3 separate regions of the Homo sapiens genome follow, and regions 2 and 3 are each linked to region 1. Evidence: fine-mapped expression QTL. A gene starts in region 1. Each other region holds a variant in brackets. All regions are shown on one strand. Distances are between the middles of the regions. Region 1 holds the start of TST (thiosulfate sulfurtransferase). Region 2 overlaps TMPRSS6 (transmembrane serine protease 6). Region 3 has its middle 19 kb from the start of NCF4.

Region 1 (6,820 bases):
TGCTAGGCACCGCAGCCTTGGGCGGGTATTAGGACGCCTGCTTTATGAATGAGGCCACTGGCAATTAGAAGAATAAGTGCCTTGCCCGTGGTCACAGGAGGCAGCCTCAGGATTTGCAGCCAGAATTTGACCCCTCAGGCTGGACTTCCCCTGCCCCAGGTGCCATGATGACCAGGGCCTAATGAGTTCTAGGGTGACACCCTGTGCCCACCCCCACAGTCTGGCCGCAGCTGGCTTTTAGGAACCTACTTCACCCATGCGGTCAGGCCTTGTGCCGGACACCGAGGCACTCTTGCCTTTGCCAAGCCCTGGGGGGAAACGTCAGGCTGCAGGCAAGAGAGAGTGAAATTGAGGATAGTTTAGAATTCAGTGTTGAGCACAGAGGGCCCCTATGTTTGCCTGGGGTGGCAGCAGAAGAGGTGGGAAGGCTTCCTGGAGTAGGAGGAAGTCCAGACTAATCTGACTTTTCCAGGGGCCCAGGAAGCCTCAGCACGGTCTTTAGGGTAGGGAGGCTGCCAAGGGGTGTTTGGCTAAGGGGTGATCCCCATTATCTGCGTTACAGCACAGCTAGGGGGCGCTGTGCTGGCAGATGCTGCAGGTTCCTTCCTGAGGAACCCTATTGTGGGAACCACAGCAGCCCCTGTGCACCCCCAAACACTGTCCCCTATTCTTGAGGATCCTTGTTTCCCTCACCCAATCATCCATTTACAGTAGAAAGAGCCCTGGTTTAGGAGCCAGAGAGCCCCCCAAATCAATGTAAACCCCACTCCACTGCTTAACTGGTTGTGTGATGTGGGTGTGTAGGGTCTCTGGGTGGTTTCTGTTCCTTATAATGGAGCTTCTCACCTCCACCTCTTAGAGCCAAGATTAAACAATAAATGTAGAGGGGCAACCACCATGCATTACATCTGGCTGGTTTTAATAATCATTAAAAACGGTTTAGGTCGGGCGTGGTGGCTCACACCTGCAATCCCAGCACTTCGGGAGGCCAAGGCGGGCGGATAACGAGGTCAAGAGTTCAAGACCAGCCTGACTAACATGGTGAAACCTCATCTCTACTAAAAATACAAAAATTAGCTGGGCATGGTGGCATGAGCCTGTAGTCCCAGCTACCCGGGAGGCTGAGGCAGGAGAATCGCTTGAACCTGGGAGGCAGAGGTTACAGTGAGCCGAGATCGCGCCACTGCACTCCAGCCTGGGCAACAGAGTGAGACTCCATCTCAAAATAATAATAATAATAATAATATTGCATTATTTCTTCCATTACTCTCATTGGTGGCCCTGGAACTGCCAGCAGCAAATCTAAAATCTTAGAATTTCAGGGCTTGGTGGGACTTCAGAGATCTGAGGTCACCCTGCCCCAGTCTCCCTGCTTGATTGGCACTTCTCACAAAGGTCTGTGGGCCATAAAGGAGGGTGTGAAGGCAGGCTGTGGGTGTCAGGGAGGGGTAGAAACCAGGTGCCTGTGTGATTCAGAAGCCGGGATCACTGTAGGTGAGGGTGCCCTGGGAGTGGAGGACCCCAGGACGTAACCGCCCCAGGCTCATGTCAGAAGGATACACAGCTGCACTGAAGCAAGCGTGAGCCGCAGGCTGGATCCAGGGTACCCCTTGAGGAGCAGAGCTTGGGAGCTCCTCTTGGACCTCCCCAGCCTGGTCCCTCCTGCCCACCCCCTCCCCCAACCACCAGACACTAGGCTTTGAGGATTGCTGTGAGCATTTTAGAACAAAACCTTTTTTTAAAAAGAGGGATGAGGCCAGGGATGGTGGCTCATGCCTGTAATCTCAGCACTTTGGGAGGCTGAGATGGGCAGATCACTTGAGCCCAGGAGTTCAAGACCAGCCTGGACAACATGGTGAAACCCCATCTCTACCAAAAATTTAAAAATTAGCCGGGAATGGTGGCACATGCCTGTGGTCCCACCTACTTGGGAGGCTAAGGTGGGAGGATCGCTTGAGCCTGGGAGGCGGAGGTTGCAGTGAGCTGAGATGGCGCCACTGCACTCCAGTCTGGGCCACAGAACCACAGCCTGTCTCAAAAAACAAAACAAAACAAAAGGTCAGGGTTGGGAAACAGGGAAAGCTTCCAGGCTGGCCTCTGCAAAAGCTAGGGAGGGGCAATGGTGTCCCCCAGTTTGCAAGAGCCCATGGCGAGCTTTTCAGGAATTTTGCCAACTGGTTGTTAAATACAGCTATTATTAAAAATTGAATTACATCAACTTATGATTAAACGGGCTAAGTTCAAAACAGGCAATTTTTTAAAAAGCATGAACCTTCAGGGAAGAGCCAGGTAAACAAAGGCAGCTGGTACCACGTGGGCTTCAGACCAGGGATCAGGCCCGGCCTCAACTCTGGGTGTGTCCTCCAGCAACTCGCTCTGCCGCTCTCTCCTGTCTTAGTAAGTTTCTGGCCTACTCCTCAGGGTTATTGTGGGAATTAAGTCACACCACGGGAGTACCCAGCAAAGTGCCACACCAAGCAGGGCTGGACAATGTTAGTTCCTTTCACTCACTAACAAGTTATTGGCTAGTGTCTCTTCCTGGGGCCTCTGGGTCAGCGGGGTCTCGTCTCCCTGTCCTCCTCTCTCTCCCCCGCCCTCTCTGGTGCCACCAGGTCACCCACTTCCACCCAAGGCTCCCCACCCGCCACTCGCCACGACCCCACCCGGCAGGCCGCCCCAAGCGGACAGTCACCCTTAGTGCCAACGTAGCGGCGCGCCTTCTCTCCTAGACTAAGCCCCCTCTTCCGCCCAGGTCCCGCGCGGGAGCCCCGCGCCGAGCACCCCCAAAGAGCCACTCCCTCCCCCTCCAGAAAGGCAAGCCGCCACGCCGCGGCAGTTACCCGGGTCTCGGACTCCCGGCTTCCTGGCTCCGCCATGGCCCCCGCGGCGCGGCGCCCCCTCCCCGCGCCCGCAGCTGTCCCCTCCTCCCGCCACCAACCTGCAGCGGACCAAAGGGAGGAGACTCCGGCACAGCCCACCGCCGCGGCCACTCGGAGCCGCTGCTGCCCGCGCCTTCCACTGGCCGGGCCGTGGGGGTACGCCCGCTCCGCCCAGCCCAGGCCCGCGCGGCCCCCGCGCCACCCGGCGTCCCCCTCAGACCCCCGCGGGTCCCGGAGGCCCCGCGCGCGAGGTTGGCAGGTGCCGGGCGCGAAGCGGCCGCGCGGGGGAGGCGCGGGATGGCGGCGGGCGGCGCAGGGTCCCCCTCTGGCGGTGGCGCGATGGTGCGCGCCGCCTGGGGAGCTGCGGCCGGGGGTTTGAACCGGCCAACTTCTCCAGCCGGCCGGGGCGAGCGCCAGCGCGGCGTCCGGGGCGAGTGAGTGCGGGGCGGGGGCAGCGGCCGGGCGCCTGGGCCGCCGGTCGGGCCACCTGCTGCCCGGGGAAGGATAGCGTTGCGAGAGTGGGACGGGGTGCCCCGGGAACCCCTGATCCACCTAGGGCAGAGGGCAGCGAGCTACGGGCCGGACTCGGGCACTCTGGAGGCGGGCGAGCTCGGGCTGCCTGGGGAGGCCGCAGGCGATGGCGTGTGCGCGGCTCGCGGAGCTTCCTAGCCGTGCGCCCACCCCCTCTGCCTTGGAAGGAAAGGGGATTCTAAGCCCAAGATGCCATCGCCCCCCATCCCGGGCATGCTTTCATTGCTCTTTCCTGGCGGGATCGAGTACTGTAACTTCTAGGAGCCAGATCCCCGCCCCAGGAAGCGCCCCTACTTGGAGTCCTCGGAAACTCTTGCCCCACCCGCTTCTGCGCTGGGCCCCCGGGCCGGCTGGGAGGGGCGGGGCCGGCTTTCCAGAGGGAATCTGCAAACTTATCCCGCTGCACGCCCCAGCCTCGCTGGCTTGCTGTAAACAAGGAACCCGGGGGAGTGCGGAGGGAGAAAGAGCTTCTCCCAGGCCTCACCCTACTGCACACACCGACTTCCTTCCTCACGCCTGTCTCTCTTTCCTGGTTCCCACCCGTGCCAGGTGACACGCAGAGCTGAAGCCATGGTTCATCAGGTGCTCTACCGGGCGCTGGTCTCCACCAAGTGGCTGGCGGAGTCCATCAGGACTGGCAAGCTGGGGCCCGGCCTGCGGGTGCTGGACGCGTCCTGGTACTCACCAGGCACCCGAGAGGCCCGCAAGGAGTACCTCGAGCGCCACGTACCCGGCGCCTCTTTCTTTGACATAGAAGAGTGCCGGGACACGGCGTCGCCCTACGAGATGATGCTGCCCAGCGAGGCTGGCTTCGCCGAGTATGTGGGCCGCCTGGGCATCAGCAACCACACGCACGTGGTGGTGTATGATGGTGAACACCTGGGCAGCTTCTATGCTCCCCGGGTCTGGTGGATGTTCCGTGTGTTTGGCCACCGCACCGTATCAGTGCTCAATGGTGGCTTCCGGAACTGGCTGAAGGAGGGCCACCCGGTGACATCCGAGCCCTCACGCCCAGAACCGGCCGTCTTCAAAGCCACACTGGACCGCTCCCTGCTCAAGACCTACGAGCAGGTGCTGGAGAACCTTGAATCTAAGAGGTTCCAGCTGGTGGATTCAAGGTCTCAAGGGCGGTTCCTGGGCACCGAGCCGGAGCCGGATGCAGTAGGTAGGTGTCCCAGTGCTGGGTGGTCCCTGGGGAGTATTGCCCCATGGAAGGATAGGGAGTAAGGATGACTGGGACCCTCTCCAGGGTCCGTCCCATGCCTTCAATCCTCCCATGTAGGCCTCAGTCTTTCCATCGATAAAACCAGAAAGTGGAGACAAACCTAAAGGCTTTTTCAGCTTGGATGCACAAGGACCCAAGAATGTGTCCTCATAGCCATGTGCTAAGAAGCCACCTAGCATCTGTGTGAGCAGAAGTCACTGGTGACATGTCCACCACCTCCACTCCCAGGCACCAGCTGCCCCACATGTACTAGGATATACCTAAGGGTGTCATGCCCCTGAGCCAGCGTTTGCATTGCTGTACAGAAACCTCCCACGGACACATCCAGCTTCTCCAGGCCTCTCTCGTCCCGCAGAAACCCTTATAGACATCAACAGTGTCCCTCCCCGCAGGATCCCCCTCTCCCCAAATCTAGCTCTCCTGGGGCCCCTGCCTGCTGTTTGCAAAGGTTCCATAACCTTTCCAGGCAGCTGCAGCCCGTCGGCAGAGTTGTAACAGCAGCTGCCATTTCATGCCAGACACTTGGCACCGCATTATCTCAGCGAACAAAGCTCAATGCCCCTGTTTTGGCAGCGGGGGGTGGGGGGACTGAGATGCCAGGACATAAAGTGGTGGAAGGCAGGATTCGAATCCAATGCTGCCTTGTTTCAAACCAGGGCTATAAACCAGGACGCACCCAATGCTGCCCTACCCCTACTTCCCAGGGCCAGGAGGGAGTCCCCTCTGCTAGTTGCCCCAGGAAGGCGACTCAGAAGTTCCCCTCCTGTGGAAGGGAAGGCCAGGTGGATTGGATACTGCTTGAGGGTTGGGGAGAGCCTCAGGAGAGGAAATGCTGAGTTCTAGAACCTCCTAGCCAGACAGAACCTCGGAGGTCTTCCCTTTTCTAGAGGCAGGACTGCCGTCTCGCTGCCATCACTCCTGCTGAGTGCCCTCCAGTCCCTGCCTGGCCATTTCCAGGAGCAGGGCCCTCTCTTGTCTCTGGGCACCTCCTTGGTGGCTCTTTCCTCAGTCAGAGCTCCTTCTCTACAGAATCTAACTCGTGTGCAACATTTTGCCTGACTTGTTGAAAAACATCTCTTCCTGTCTGTACCTCCTACAGAGAGAATGCTGGGAAAACTGTTCTGCACACTCTTAGAGCTGGAGGGCCTGAACGGTGACCTCACCTGACAGAGGGGAGACTGAGGTGCACAGAGGCAGGGGCCAAGGCCGCATAGCTAGTTAGTGACAGAGCCAGGACAGCAGGGTCTCTGCCCTTTCCAGCGCAGCTTTTTCCAGGCCCCATATTTTTCTTGCCTGCTTGCTCTCTGAAGGTCTGGAGTTGAAGATTCAAGTTCATTTGGCACCTCCCAGAGAATCCTGGCTGGGAACGCCTGCAGCCCTCTCCTGGCCTTGGTTCAAGACGCCTCTTCTCCTTGGGATTTAAGCTGTCATGGGGGAGGATCAGTGGAATTGGTTCTCTTGCTGCTTCCCAGCCTGCCCTGAAGCAACCTAAGAAATAAGTGGAAGGGACAGCTTGGAGGTGCCAGGCCCAATGTCCTCACCCATTTTACAGATGAGGAAACTGAGGCTCAGAGGAGGAGAATGGCCTGCAGTGGGTAATGCCTCCTGAAGGCCCGGGATGCTGAAGTTCCTCCTCTGTAATTGTGTTCACACCTCCTTCAGTTTCCCTCAGGAGCATCAGGGAACATGGATTCTCATTTCAGCTCAGCCACTCCTCCTTGGAGTGACCTCAGTCCAGTTGCTTGGCCTCTCTGGGTTTCCTTATCATAAAATGAGAAGAGTCACGCCAGCCCTACCCACATGAGTATGCATTTGTTTAAATGTAGCAGTGGCGGCCGGGCGTGGTGGCTCACGCCTGTAATCCCAGCACCTTGGGAGACCAAGGTGGGCGGATCATGAGCTCGGGAGTTCGAGACCAGCCTGACCAACATGGTGAAACCCCGTCGCTACTAAAATGAAAAAAAAATTAGCCAGGCGTTGGTGGTACGTGCCTGTAATCCTAGCTACTTGGGAGGCTGAGGCAGGAGAATCGCTTGAACCCGGGAGGTGGAGGTTGCAGTGAGCCAAGATCGCGCCACTGCACTCCAGCCTGGGCAACAGAACAAGACTCTGTCTCAAAAAAAAAAAAAAAAAAAAAAAAAAGTAGCAGTGGCTGGAAAGGGATTTCAAGAAGGGTAAGGAACGA
Region 2 (6,820 bases), 47 kb before region 1:
GCCTCCACGGTGCTGTGGACCGTGTTCCTGGGCAAGGTGTGGCAGAACTCGCGCTGGCCTGGAGAGGTGTCCTTCAAGGTGAGCCGCCTGCTCCTGCACCCGTACCACGAAGAGGACAGCCATGACTACGACGTGGCGCTGCTGCAGCTCGACCACCCGGTGGTGCGCTCGGCCGCCGTGCGCCCCGTCTGCCTGCCCGCGCGCTCCCACTTCTTCGAGCCCGGCCTGCACTGCTGGATTACGGGCTGGGGCGCCTTGCGCGAGGGCGGTGAGCAGCGGGGACTTGCGGCGGGAGGCGGAGGGAGACCGTGCGGATCTGCGCCGTAACACCTGGCCTGGAGAAGGGCGGGGCTGGGGGTCCCGGGGCTCCACCCCATAGGCCCTCTAGTGCTGGGATTCAAATTGGGCTGAATTTTACGGTAGAAAACCACCATTTAATGCGGCCTGTAGGCCCCTGCCCCTCCCCTCCTAGCTCTTCCCTTCCTTCTGGAAGGGCGTTATGTGTGGGGCAAAGGGGCAGGTCTGGGACGCCACTGCCCACGTGCAAGCTCCACCTGCTGTTCCTTGGGCTGCAAGGGTGGAAGGCTCTTAATTACTAGCACTTTCCACATCCAGGCTGGATTTTAGGGGAACTTGACTTCATATAATCCACCCAACAGCCCTACGGGCGGATGCTGTGGCCCTATTTTATGGATGGAGAAACCAAGGCTCAGAGACATGTTGCTGTAAGTCACACAGCCAGAGAGGACTGGAGCAAAGATTAGAACCCAGGGCTGGCTGCCTCCAGAGCCCCTGCTCTTCCTGCTACTGCTCTCAGAAACAGGGTCTCTCCCCTTTCTACGTTCACTGACCAGAGTCCCTGGCGGCCACCGCACAGTTTTGGGGACACAGACCCAGCTGGCAAACCTACAGACATGCCCTGCAGCGTTAGTGTTGGTGGCTTCAAAAATGTGTACAGTGACTTACAATCTGGAAGCAGGCGGGGCCGCAGAGATATTTTAAGGATGGGGAAACTGAGGCTCAGAGGAACAGTGACTTACCCAAGGGGATGGCAGTGGTCATGGCAAAGCAAAGGCTGGTTCATTCACTATTCCTTCACTCATTCAGTCACTCAATGACACTTTCTGAGCACCAAGTACGTACCAGGCGTGGGGTTAGGGGAAGGGTACATAAGGATGAAGAGAGAACATTCTCGGGGGAGACAGACAGTGGTAAGAGCTGACATGGATGGGGAGATGCAGGAACAGTGGAGACACAGAGGAGGCTCCTGCCCAGCTAGGGTCAGGGGAGGCTTCCAGGGGAGGGTTGTTTAAGCTGAGGCCTGGAAGATGAGTTGGCAACATTCAGACAAAGGGGAAAGACATTCAGGTGAAGACACAGGTGCCAAGACAGGAAGATGTGAGAACATCCGCAGCCTGCCAGAGGGGCTGAGGTGGGGGGCAGGCGTGCCTGGGCGAGGAGCAACCAGAATGGCAGACAGGGCCTTGGGCGAGGAGCAACCAGAATGGCAGACAGGGCCTTGCCGGCCAGCATAAGGATCTTAGGCCAGGAGTTCTCCCTCCTACCTGCACCTTAGAACCATACGGGGAGTTTCAAGAAAAACTGCGTATCAAGGCTCCCCGGGGGACTGTGATATGCAGCCCTCGTGGAGAAGCGCTAGGGCAGACTGCAGAGTTGGGGCACTGCAGAGTTCTAAGGAAACCATGAAGGGATCAGATGTGGGCTTCGGAGACATCTGCAGGTGCTGTAACAGAGCAGCGAGGAGCCAGCCAGAGCCCAGAGGTGCCTCAGCAGACAGAGGTGGGGGACAAGAAGCTGGAGGAAGACACTCATCCACACGGGCTTTTTTCTTTTTTCTTTTTTTTGTTTTTTTGAGACAGAGTTTCGCTCTTGTTGCCCAGGCTGGAGTGCAATGGCGCGATCTCGGCTCGGATCCCCCTCCTCCCGGGTTCAAGCGGTTCTCCTGCCTCAGCCTCCTGAGTAACTGGGATTACAGGCATGTGCCACCACACCCAGCTAATTTTGTATTTTTAGTACAGACAGGGTTTCTCCATGTTGGTCAAGCTGGTCTCAAACTCTTGACCTCAGGTGTTCCGTCCGCCTCAGCCTCCCAAAGTGCTGGGATTACAGGCATGAGCCACCGTGCCCGGCCCTCCACATGGGCTTTGGTCGGGGGCTGTCACCATGAACCCCACAGAGAAAGAGCTAGAATAAAGTGACAGGGAGGCAGAGGGGCAGGTGCGACCCTAGCAGGGGTAAGGGTGGGCAGAGCAGGAGAGAAGTAGGCTCCTGAGATGCAAAGGGAATAATGTTAGGGAGAATAGAGAACAGGGGCTCCAGGCTCCTGAGATCTCACTTCTGCCCTTGACCACGGACAGGCCCCATCAGCAACGCTCTGCAGAAAGTGGATGTGCAGTTGATCCCACAGGACCTGTGCAGCGAGGTCTATCGCTACCAGGTGACGCCACGCATGCTGTGTGCCGGCTACCGCAAGGGCAAGAAGGATGCCTGTCAGGTGAGTCCCCCGGGCATGGGAGGGAGAGAGGAGGGAGAAAGGATGCTGCCCACATCACCAGGGTCTGGCCCTTTGCTCACATCAGCCTGCTGAAGCCTCCCATCCTCCCAGCAAGGTGGTGATGGCCACCCCTACTTTACAGAAGAGGAGACTGGGGCTTAGAAAGGTTGAGGAGCTTGCCCAAGGTTGCAGAGCCACAGATCAGAAGAGATGCTGTGATGGGCAGGTGTTAG[G/C]CTCAAACCCAGTTCTGCTCCTTGCCCACCACAAGGCACTAGGCCCAGGGTCCCACAGTGAGGTGGATGCATGGAAGAAGAAAGGGGTGTCAGCCACAGAAGGGAGGCGGAGGCAGAGTGGGGGCGTGGGGACACAGCCACAGTTCCAGGAGGTCCCAGGCTGGCTGGAGGCCGGGGAGGGCTGGCTTGGGCTCTCTCCATTTAGCAGGCGAGGGGAAAGCAGAGCTTTAAGACTGAACGTGACTCTGGCACCCAGTCAATTCCCAACAGTCAGGACTTAATCCCTATGGCTCTTCACCTGGAAAAGGGGGTGCCCTTACCCTGCTTCAGTCCTTTCTCCTTTCCCCCTTTCAGGGTGACTCAGGTGGTCCGCTGGTGTGCAAGGCACTCAGTGGCCGCTGGTTCCTGGCGGGGCTGGTCAGCTGGGGCCTGGGCTGTGGCCGGCCTAACTACTTCGGCGTCTACACCCGCATCACAGGTGTGATCAGCTGGATCCAGCAAGTGGTGACCTGAGGAACTGCCCCCCTGCAAAGCAGGGCCCACCTCCTGGACTCAGAGAGCCCAGGGCAACTGCCAAGCAGGGGGACAAGTATTCTGGCGGGGGGTGGGGGAGAGAGCAGGCCCTGTGGTGGCAGGAGGTGGCATCTTGTCTCGTCCCTGATGTCTGCTCCAGTGATGGCAGGAGGATGGAGAAGTGCCAGCAGCTGGGGGTCAAGACGTCCCCTGAGGACCCAGGCCCACACCCAGCCCTTCTGCCTCCCAATTCTCTCTCCTCCGTCCCCTTCCTCCACTGCTGCCTAATGCAAGGCAGTGGCTCAGCAGCAAGAATGCTGGTTCTACATCCCGAGGAGTGTCTGAGGTGCGCCCCACTCTGTACAGAGGCTGTTTGGGCAGCCTTGCCTCCAGAGAGCAGATTCCAGCTTCGGAAGCCCCTGGTCTAACTTGGGATCTGGGAATGGAAGGTGCTCCCATCGGAGGGGACCCTCAGAGCCCTGGAGACTGCCAGGTGGGCCTGCTGCCACTGTAAGCCAAAAGGTGGGGAAGTCCTGACTCCAGGGTCCTTGCCCCACCCCTGCCTGCCACCTGGGCCCTCACAGCCCAGACCCTCACTGGGAGGTGAGCTCAGCTGCCCTTTGGAATAAAGCTGCCTGATCCAAGCCCCGCTGCTGGAGTTTGAATGGGACCCAGGCACCAGCCTCATGCCCTTGACTGGAGCAGCCCCTGCTTCCTGCTCAGCCTGTTTGACAAGTGTCCAGAAGGCCAAGGTGGGCTCAGTGGCAGTGGGCGTGGCCACTGAGGGCTGGGGCCTGCAGGGCAGCTGCCCAGGTCCCAGAAGAAATGCCAGGAAGGCAATCATTTGGGGACCCTCAGGTCAGAGGGATGTGAGGAGCAATCGTCTCCTTTTGGAACCTTAGGAGGAAACTGAGGCTCAGAGAGGCGGTTAAGACATCCTCATAGTGGCACTGGGGGTTAGGAGTGGAGGTGGCATAGACTCCTGTCTCCCAGCTCCCTGTCTGCCAAGGCCCCGTCCAGTGCGACACTCCCTTCCTTTGCATTCTTTGAGCCACTGAATAAAGCCTTGGGCTCCAACCATGTGCCAGCACTATGCTGGGGCCACAGGGGTGAAGGACCTGGCTCCTGACCCCAGGAGCAGTGGGGATGATCCAGTGGGAAGGGGCCGGAGGGGAGCGTGGACTGGGCAAGTCAAGGCAAGCTGCCTGGAGGCTGTGAGACTTGAGCTGGGGTTCAGAGGTGGTCCAGGTGGGAATATCCGGGAAGGATATTCCAGGCAGGGAAGAGCACGTGCAAAGGCACAGTCCCGGAAGAATGAGGCACGCTAGGACCCAGCAAGCCGAGTGAGTGTTAGAACAGAGCTCGAGAGGATGACTCAAGAATTCAGAGGGGCGAACTGAGGCGGGATAGCAGAGCCTGGGGTTGAGCCAAGGATTTGATCTTGAAAGCTCTGGGGAGCCACGGTGGGCTCTATAGCATAGGAGTGACATGAGAGGATTCACATTTTGGAACCAGCCTTGGCACCAGTGTGCAGGGAGCGGCAGGCAGGGAGGCTGGTTAGGAGGCCACCGCAGGATTCCAGGATGGAGAGGATGGGCCGGGACTGAGCAGCGCCATGGGATGGACTGGAGGATGATTTTAGACCCCTGGGGGCAGTTGTGATGGAGGCAGGGGGCTCGCTGGAGGTGAGGGTGGACGGTCAAGTGTGGACAACTCTTTCTAGACGCCTAACTGGGAGCGGAAGGGAGAGAGGGAGCTTCAGAGGGGCCCCAGACTGAAGAGGGGTTTTTCCAACATGGGCGCTGCTGCCAGGTCTGTGGGTGAATGAGGCAGAAGGGGAACCAGGGACGGGGAGCACCCACCTGGGTCCTGCCAGGACGAGCCGGAGCAGCTGGGTGGGCAGGGAGCGTCTCCAGAGCAGGTGGGCAGAACACATGCAGAATACCTTGGGTGATCTGGAATCACCCTGGGCCCTACCTCAGTCTTCATCGGAATCCTGGAGGGCGGGGGACGTGTCATCTGTTCTCCTAACAAGCCTCCTGGTGACTCTTTTGCAAGGATAGTTGGACCCTAAAAATGAGTCCAGCTTTGGAGTGGAGTGTCCTCAGGGGAAGTGGCGAGGCCCTCCAGGCTTGAGCTGGCAAGAGGGTGCCCCCGCCCCAGCCTGTGGAAGGCCTGCGCCTTAGGGGCTCACTGCCCGGCAGGATTTCCTCGAGCAGCGGGGAGGACTGAGGAGTTGAAGGAACTGGCCAGGGTGGGTGGAGGGTCTGGGGTCTGGGCTGGGTCCAGCAGGGTCAGAGAAGGGAGAGGGCGGGGTGTTTATATTTCCTAGGATTTTGGGCAGAGGGGTGGCAGCAATAGGGAGGGATGGCGGTGGCCCAGGTGTCAGAGTAGAAGTGGAGGGGGCGCGCTGAGAGGTTTAGGATGTGGCAGAGGCAGCCCAGGGCTCTCCCTAGAGTTCTGTTTTCTGGCTCCCGGCCAGGTAGGGCAGGTGCTCTGGTATCCGGCCCCAGGGCAAAGGATATAGCCAGTTCCCCAAGCCCTCCCTGCAACACACACAGGAAAATGACAACAGGGCAGCGTCCCTGGGCTTTTGGGACAAAGCCGCGTTCCTTTGGACCAGACTACCACACCTTTAGTTTAGCCCCGTCCCCAAAAGTGGCCCAGAGAAAGAGGGCAACAGCCAGGCTGGGCTGTTCCTTTGGGTTTTATTACATGGTGGGGTCGGACACAGCTGAGAAGCAAGGACCCATCCCGGGAAGTCAAACACAGGAGGGCCCCTGGCTCAGCCGCCATACCCACTCTCCCCGGGCAGTTCCTGAGTCCTCCACCGCCCCTGCCCAGCCCCTTCTGCTGCCTCTCCCCGCCCCCCAGGCCAGGCGCTGGGCCAGCAATGCAAATGGCTGGGGGTGGGATCACCAAAGAGAAGGCCAAGCCAACTACCCCTACTCTGCCAGGCCAGCTCCCCACAACCTGCATCCCCAATACCTGAATCTCCATTTGCAAACACAGTGTTATGCCCAGGGGTCGGGCTGGGTCCTTCCCATCCCAGGGCAGCTGAAGGTGGGCGGCCCCTATATACTGCCTGAGGGCCTTCAGGGACTTTGCTCCTCTGTGCACCCTCACAACAACCCTGTGAGGTAGGTGGGGTGGGAGGAGTGACCCCCTGGACTAAGGCTCAAGGAGGCAATGTGACCGGGCCAGGAAGGAGCACATCCACCATGCAGCAGGGGAGCCCGGGAGAGGGGACGCAGGTGCCGGAGAGACACAGCCAGACATTGCCACACATCTGCCATGAGCAGTCCACTCTGCCCAGAGGTCCTGGGGCCCACCTTGGGCCTTAAGAGGTCCCAGGGGGGCCCCGCCCCGCCCCTGGAGGCAGGAGTAAGTCACAGCCCCACGGGTGCAGACAGAGGAGGCCGGGGAGAGGGTGCTTCTTCCTTCTCAGGCCCGGGGCCCACCCCATGGTACAAAAATAAAGGATTTCAGATGGGAACCCCAAGTCCCTGGAGGTGATCTGGGGCCTCACATCCGGGTGCCTCTGGCTTGTAACAGCTAG
Region 3 (6,820 bases), 180 kb after region 1:
GAACATTAAAGGGATAGCAGTTCCCCTCTCTGGTCCTTGAGACCAGAGTAGAAGTGCTGAAAGGGGTCAAATCCAGACTCCGAGGACTTCGCTTCATTGCACTCACAGCCTTGCCTGTCAGGGTTGTAAAAGTAGGAAGCAAAAACCAACAGGAAAGAGATGGCTAAGTAAGTTGTAAAATCCATTTATTTATTCATGGGCAAGCCTTATTTTTGATGCAAAATGGTGTTAGTCTGATTCATTCTCTCTCTCTCTCTCTCTGTCTTGTCCCTCTTTCTCCCCAAGAGTGGGATCTGAAGGATGGTTACTGTCCCAAATCAAATTGACCTCATGCATCAGTCAAGACCCAGTCAAAACCAGAAAGCACACACACCAGTTACTTTAACAGAGGGAATTTACTATAGGGAATTGGTTAGACAGGTCTCTGGGCCTGAAAAGGCAATGGGGGACTTAAGTGAGATGCCTAGAGATAGTAACTTCAGGAAGGAACTTTGCCCCCAGGGCTGTCAGAACAAAGGGGAGAGGTGGTGGTGAACAGAACCCGGAAATTCCAAAAAGAGACTGCACAAGCTGGGATGTGGATGGCTGAGGAGGGAACACTGGCCAGCTGACCCTCAGATCTTGAGGGAGTGTGATGGGGCTGATTTGGAGGGTTCTAGAAAAAACTAGAGGGGGTAACTAAGTGCTGCTGCCAGGGTGAGGGACCAGTGCTGGGGTGAATAAGTGAAGCTGAGGGGATGCTCAGCGGATGGGCAAGTGGGAAGGAAAGCACGAGGCTCTTCTCCTCCAGCCTCACAGGCTCCCTCTAGCACCCACCAGTGCCAGGGCCTAACAGGAGGGAGCTGGCAGTGCGGAAATGGGTTTGCAGAATCCCAGCCTTAGACTGGGAGCTGAACGGGGGAGGGTGGATCGGGGGTTTATATGAGATGACAGCTTAATAACCAACACACTCTGGGGACTCCCAAAGAAATGGGCCACAAACCTTGCGGCAACTCCCAAAGCCTAATTTTGAGATACAAACTCCTCTAGAAATAAATTCTAAGAGCACTACTACGTACCAAACACTGTGCTAGGCGCTGTGAGAAGGCATGGAACTAGAAAGACATCTTCAGAGCTGAATGTTCAAATGTTGGCTCTACTATTGTATGTTGGGAGACCTCAGACGACTCACAACATTGACCTCTGTTTCCTCAATCATAAAATTCAGATGGGGGATGGCTACTCTGTGTCTCATGGCATAATTAGAAGAATTGAATCAGCTTATGACTCTAAAGTGCCTGGCAATCCTAGCTTCCAGTTGGTCTTTCCTTTTTTCCCCTCCTTCTCATTCTTCTCTTGTGTTGGTCCCTCCTCTGCCCCTGGTCTTTTTCCTCCTCCTCTATCGTCACCATAATCAATACCACCATTGCCATCCTCATCACCACCACCACCATCATCATCATCACCACCATGATCATTGCCATCATCATCACCATCACCAAGCAAGACAAAATATCAACATTAACAGGAGTTTGGAAGAAAGATTTCTCTGTAGCACGTGACGCTCTTTGATAGCATTCTGCCCACAGTAGAACTTCTTTCAAAATTGGAATCAGTCCTCTCAAACCCTGCTGCTGCTTTATCGACAAAGTTAATGGAATATTCTAAATCCTTTGTTGTCATTGCAATAATATTCACAGCATCTTCACAGGAGTAGATTTCATCTCAAGAAACCACTTTCTTTGATCATCCATAAAAAAGCAACTTCTCATCCATTCAGGTTTGATCATGAGATTGCAGCAATGCAGTCATATCTTCAGACTCTACTTCTAATTCTAGTTCTCTTGCTATTTCTACCACATCTGCAGTTCCTTCTTCCACTGAAGTCTTGAACTCCTCAAAGTCGTCTATGAGGGTTGGAATCAACTTCTTCCAAACTCCTGATAATGTTGATATTGTGACCTCCTCCCATGAATCAAAAATATGTTGAGTGGCATTTAGAACAATGAGTCGTTTCCAGAAGGTTTTCAATTTATTTTGTCCACCTCCATCAGAGGAATCACTGTTTATGGAAGCTGTAGCCTTATAAAATGTGTTTCTTAAATAATAAGACTTGAAAGTTGAAATTACTCCTTGATTCATGGGCTGCAGAATGGTTGTGTTAGCAGGCATGAAAACGACATTAATCTCCTTGTACTCCATCGGAGCCCTTGGGTAACCAGGTACATTATCAATAAGCAGTAATATTTTCAAGCGAATCTTTTTTTCTGAGCAATAGGTCTCAATAGTGGGTTTAAATGATCAGCAAACCATGCTGTAAACCGATGTACTGCATCCAGGCTTTATTTTTCCATTTATAGAGCACAGGCAGAGTAGATTTAGCATCATTCTTAAGGGCCCTAGAATTTTCAGAATGGTAAATGCGCACTGGCTTCAACTTAAAGTCACCAGCTGCATTAGCCCGTAACAATAGAGTCACCCTGTCCTTTGAAGCTTTGAAAACAGGCATTGCCTTCACCTGTCTAGCTATGAAAGTCCTAGATGGTATCTTCTTCCAACAGAGGGCTGTTTCATCCACATGGAAAATATCTTACTTAGTGTGGCCACCTTCATCAATGACCTTAGCCAGATCTTCTGGATAACTTGCTGCAGCTTCTCCATCAGCACCTGCTGCTTCACCTTGCACTTTTATGTTATGGAGACAGCTTCTTTCCTTAAACCTCATGCATTAACCTCTGCTACCTTCAAGCTTCTTTCTGAAGCTTGCTCACCTCTCTCAGCCTTCACAGAATTGAAGACAAGTAGGGCCTTGCTCTGGATCAGGCTCTGGCTTAAGGGAATGTTGTGGCTGGTTTGACTTTCTATCAAGACCACTCAAACTTTCTCCATATCATCAATAAGGTTGTTTCACTTTCTTATCATTCGTGCGCTCACTGGAGTAGAACTTTTAATTTCCTTCAAGAACTTTTCCTTTGCATTCACAACTGATCTAACTGTCTGGTGCCCATCTTTTGGCCTATCTCAGCTTTTGGCATACCTTTCTCACTAAGTTGAACCATTTCTAGCTTTTGATTTAAAGTAAGAGACAGGACTTTTCATTTCATTTAAACACTTAGAGGCCATTGTAGGCTTATTAACTGGCATAATTTTAATACCTTTGTGTCTCAGGGAATAGAGAGAGAGAGAGGGAATGGCCATTCCATGGAGCAGTGAGAACACACACAACATGTATCGATTAAGTTTGCCATCTTACATAGTCATGGCTCATGGAGCCCCAAAGCAATTACAATAGTAACATCAATGATCACTGATCACAGACCACCATAACAGATATCATAATAATGAAAAAGCTGAAAATATTGCAAGAATTACTAAAATGTGGCACGGAGACATGAAGTGAGCACACGTTCTTGGAAAAATGGCACCGATAGACTTCCTGGGTGCAAGGTTGCCACAAAACTTCAATTTGTGAAAAATCCAATATCTGCAAAGTGCAACAAAGCAGAACCCAATCAAAGGAGGTGTGCTTGTATTTTGAAATGAACATTCATTTGGGAGACTATTCATACATTTATTCATATAATAAAGTCATATAATACATTAAAAATAAAAGAATATTTGGAGGCTTACCTCCTAGTGGTGGAATTGCTGGAACAAAGGGCATGTGCAGCTTTTTCTTTTGTTTTTTTTTTTTTAGATGGAGTCTTGCTCTTTCACCTAGGCTGGACTGTGGGTGCAGTGGTGTTAGCTCACTGCAACCTCGGCCTCCCAGGTTCAAGCAATTCTCCTGCCTCAGCCTCCCAAGTAGCTGGGATTAC[A/C]GGCACCTGCTACTATGCCCGGCTAATTTTTGAATTTTTAGTACAGATGGGGTTTCGCCATGTTGGCCAGGCTGGTCTTGAACTCCTGACCTCAAGGGATCCACCCACCTTGGCCTCCCAAAGTGCTCGGATTACAGGCGTGAGCCACCATGCCCAGCCACATGTGCATTTTTAATTTGGATGGAAATCTCAAAATTTCCCTCCTAAAATAGAAATTTACATTTTCTTAATTCATTGCCATCACTGAATACAACTGTACTTAAACATTTTTGACCATCTGATAAGTTAAAAAAGTCTCTGATTTTGGTTTGTATTTCTCTGATGGCAGAGGAGGCTGAGTATATTTTCATACATTTATTGGCCTTTTGTATTTTGCATTTGTATTATTGGCCTCCTGTCTGTGCCTTAGGACCCTCCTTTCTATTGGACTGTTCATCTTTTTCTTATTGATTATGAGCTATTTGTAAATCAACAGCATTGGTCTTTTTTCTAGCACTTGTCTGAAAGTATTATTTGGCCATTTTGTTGTTTGCTTTGAACTTGGTCCATGGCATTTTTTTTTAACTCTCACACAAGTTTTAATTTGCTACAGTAATGTTTGTCAATCTATTTGTTTATGGTTTCTGGGCAGACTCATGTCTTCAGAGCTGTCCCTATCCTTGCCAGCAGGTTGAAGGAATTTCCTGGGTGGCTAGGTGACATGGCAGCCACTGGATGTGTCCCCAGGCTCGCCCTCCGCCACCTCCATGTGGAGATGCCGCCCCTCAGAAGATTCAGCAAACACAGCCCCTTGGCCTGCTCCAAGAAGGTGGCTGCCCCGCCTTTCACAGCCAAATTCAGGATGCACCTGGCTTTCGTTTTCCCCTGACATCCAGCTCCTTTTAAGGAGCTATGCATCTTATACGTTTCTTAATCCCCCAACTAAATTTACCAGCTGTTGCTCACAGCCAAGACATCAGCTAAATTAAACTTTGGAGTGGCAAACACGGTGTATCAGATGCACTTCAGTGAGCCATGGTGGGAGCAGCCACGCCCCATCTGTCCTGAGGGCTGGGGGTCATGCTCTCCCTTCCCTCCTGGAATCTGGCCACAGCAGCATCTTCCTTCCCTCAGAAGCACTAGGGTCCCGCCACTGGAGGACCATGGGTGTATTGAGTTACTTCCACCATTGAAAAGATTCTTCCTTTCATTCTACAGGTATTTACTGAGGGCTCAATTATTGACAGGCACTGTTGTGGCAGTGGGGAAACACCTGAGGTTTTCTTTCTCGTGACAGAGAGAAATGAGGAACAAATGAATGTATAATCCACAGTTGAGCAGCAAGAGAGCCTCGGAGCAAGGGAAGCAGATAGAGAGAGAAGTGAGGGTAGGGCTGGGTGTCTCTTCGGACATGGTGGCCGGGGAAGGCCTCTGATGAGGTGACATTTGTGTAGAGACTGGAATGAGGTCCTAGACACAGCCATGTAGGTATCTGGGGGAGAAGGTTCCAAGGCATGTTCTAGAACCAGCAGGGCAACTAGCAGTGAAGGAGGAAGGGCTGGGTGGGAGGAGAGGTGGAGCGAGTTGTGGGAAGATGCTAGCATTCTCCTCCATGTGCTATGGGAAGTGAGTCAAGGTTTGAGAATTGGGAGAAGGGTGAGGTGTTTTCCATCTGAAGTGTGTTTGGTTTGCATTTACCCTCTATGACAGCTTAGGCACAGGAAAGGTCAGACGTGGATTGATGGTGAAAAAGAACTGATGGGCCGGGCGCAGTGGCTCATGCCTGTAATCCTAGCACTTTGAGAGGCCGAGGCAGGCGGATCCCCTGAGGTCAGGAGTTTGAGACCAGCCTGGCCAACGTGATGAAACCCCGTCTCTACCAAAAAAAAAAAAAAAAAGAAAGAAAAAAAATAGCAGGGCATGGTGGTGCATGCCTGTAGTCCCAGCTACTCAGGAGGCTGAGGCAGGAGAATAGCTTGAACCTGGGAGGCGGAGGTTGCAATGAGCCGAGATAGCACCACTGCACTCCAGCCTGTGATGGTGAGAATTCAGGCACCCCAGAGCAGCTCCTGGGGATCCTTTGAGTGAGCAGAGTGGGTATGCCCTATGCTGCTCCTGTCACATATTGGGTTTGTGGGTGAAACTCTCCCTGCTCTGGACACACTCACAAAGCAGGAAGGTCTACCTGGCTGGAACCTGCATCCCTGTTCTCTGGAGGGAGGAAGCCCTTCCCTCACACCTGGACACTCAGGCCCAGCAGGCTCTCTGCTTGGGTCCAGCTGTGACCCTGTGTCCTGCTGCAAGGCCCCAGCTGCTCAGCCTGGCCTCTGAGGACCTGCCGGATTGGCAGGGACTGGCCGTCCTGGGCAGACACCGCAGACTGGGGCTGGCCCTCAGTGCTGAAGGCTCCTGAGTTGAACTGGCCAGCACACCGAGGCTGGCCAAAAGTGCAGCCCAGCACCAGCTTGCGAGGAGGCTCCCAGGAGAAACAATTAGAAAGCATCACAAAACACCTGGCGGACAACAGGGGCTGGAGAAATGCCAGCTCCTGCTCCAGTCACACACAGGCTCAGGCAGCATAACAGCCGTGAGACACACACGCCACCCAGGTGGTGTTGAAGACAGGCAGGGACCACCTAGGTGGTGTTGAAGACAGGCAGGGACCACCCAGGTGGTGTTGAAGACAGGCAGGGACCAGCCCAGGAGGAGCCTGACCAGTTGCTAACTTGACAACCTTACTCACACACACACACACAGACACACACACACCACACACACACAGACACACACATACACACACACCACCCCCCCACACACACATCACACACACACATACACATACATACACCACACACACACACATACACAGACACACACACACACACTGCCCCCACACACTGCCCACACGCACATACAAACACACAGACATACACCACCCACACACACACACACACACACCACCCCCCCCCCCCACACACACACACCACACACACACAGAGTCGGCTCCATATGAATAGGCTCTGATATGGTTTGGCTGTGTCCCC

The links. PIP is the estimated chance that this variant, and not a neighbour inherited with it, causes the effect. A credible set is the group of variants that fine-mapping cannot tell apart.
Region 2: its variant is the best candidate, but not a certain one, in a credible set for the expression of TST in whole blood (INTERVAL, PIP 0.64).
Region 3: its variant is the best candidate, but not a certain one, in a credible set for the expression of TST in whole blood (TOPMed, PIP 0.73).

Annotation. Positions count from the first base shown.
Region 1 is chr22:37,015,893-37,022,712 of GRCh38, reverse strand. It overlaps TST (thiosulfate sulfurtransferase), which reads left to right and starts at 3,266. Exons shown (of 3, transcript NM_003312.6): 1 at 3,266-3,313; 2 at 3,960-4,575. The coding sequence starts at 3,981. It overlaps MPST (mercaptopyruvate sulfurtransferase), which reads right to left and starts at 2,971. Exons shown (of 3, transcript NM_021126.8): 1 at 2,841-2,971. The coding sequence starts at 2,876. RefSeq lists silencers at 2,655-2,974, 2,985-3,104, 3,135-3,524, 3,685-3,744 and enhancers at 3,218-3,719, 3,748-4,723.
Region 2 is chr22:37,062,521-37,069,340 of GRCh38, reverse strand. TMPRSS6 (transmembrane serine protease 6) reads left to right here. Exons shown (of 18, transcript NM_001374504.1): 16 at 1-268; 17 at 2,379-2,515; 18 at 3,103-3,905. The coding sequence ends at 3,261. It overlaps KCTD17 (potassium channel tetramerization domain containing 17), which reads right to left. Exons shown (of 9, transcript NM_001282684.2): 9 at 5,951-6,816. The coding sequence ends at 6,747. Among named protein-coding and RNA genes, the nearest start is that of KCTD17, 14 kb to the right of the region's middle. RefSeq lists an enhancer at 5,253-6,076. The variant G/C (reference allele first, on the strand shown) is at 2,749.
Region 3 is chr22:36,838,126-36,844,945 of GRCh38, reverse strand. No RefSeq gene overlaps it. Among named protein-coding and RNA genes, the nearest start is that of NCF4, 19 kb to the left of the region's middle. The variant A/C (reference allele first, on the strand shown) is at 3,798.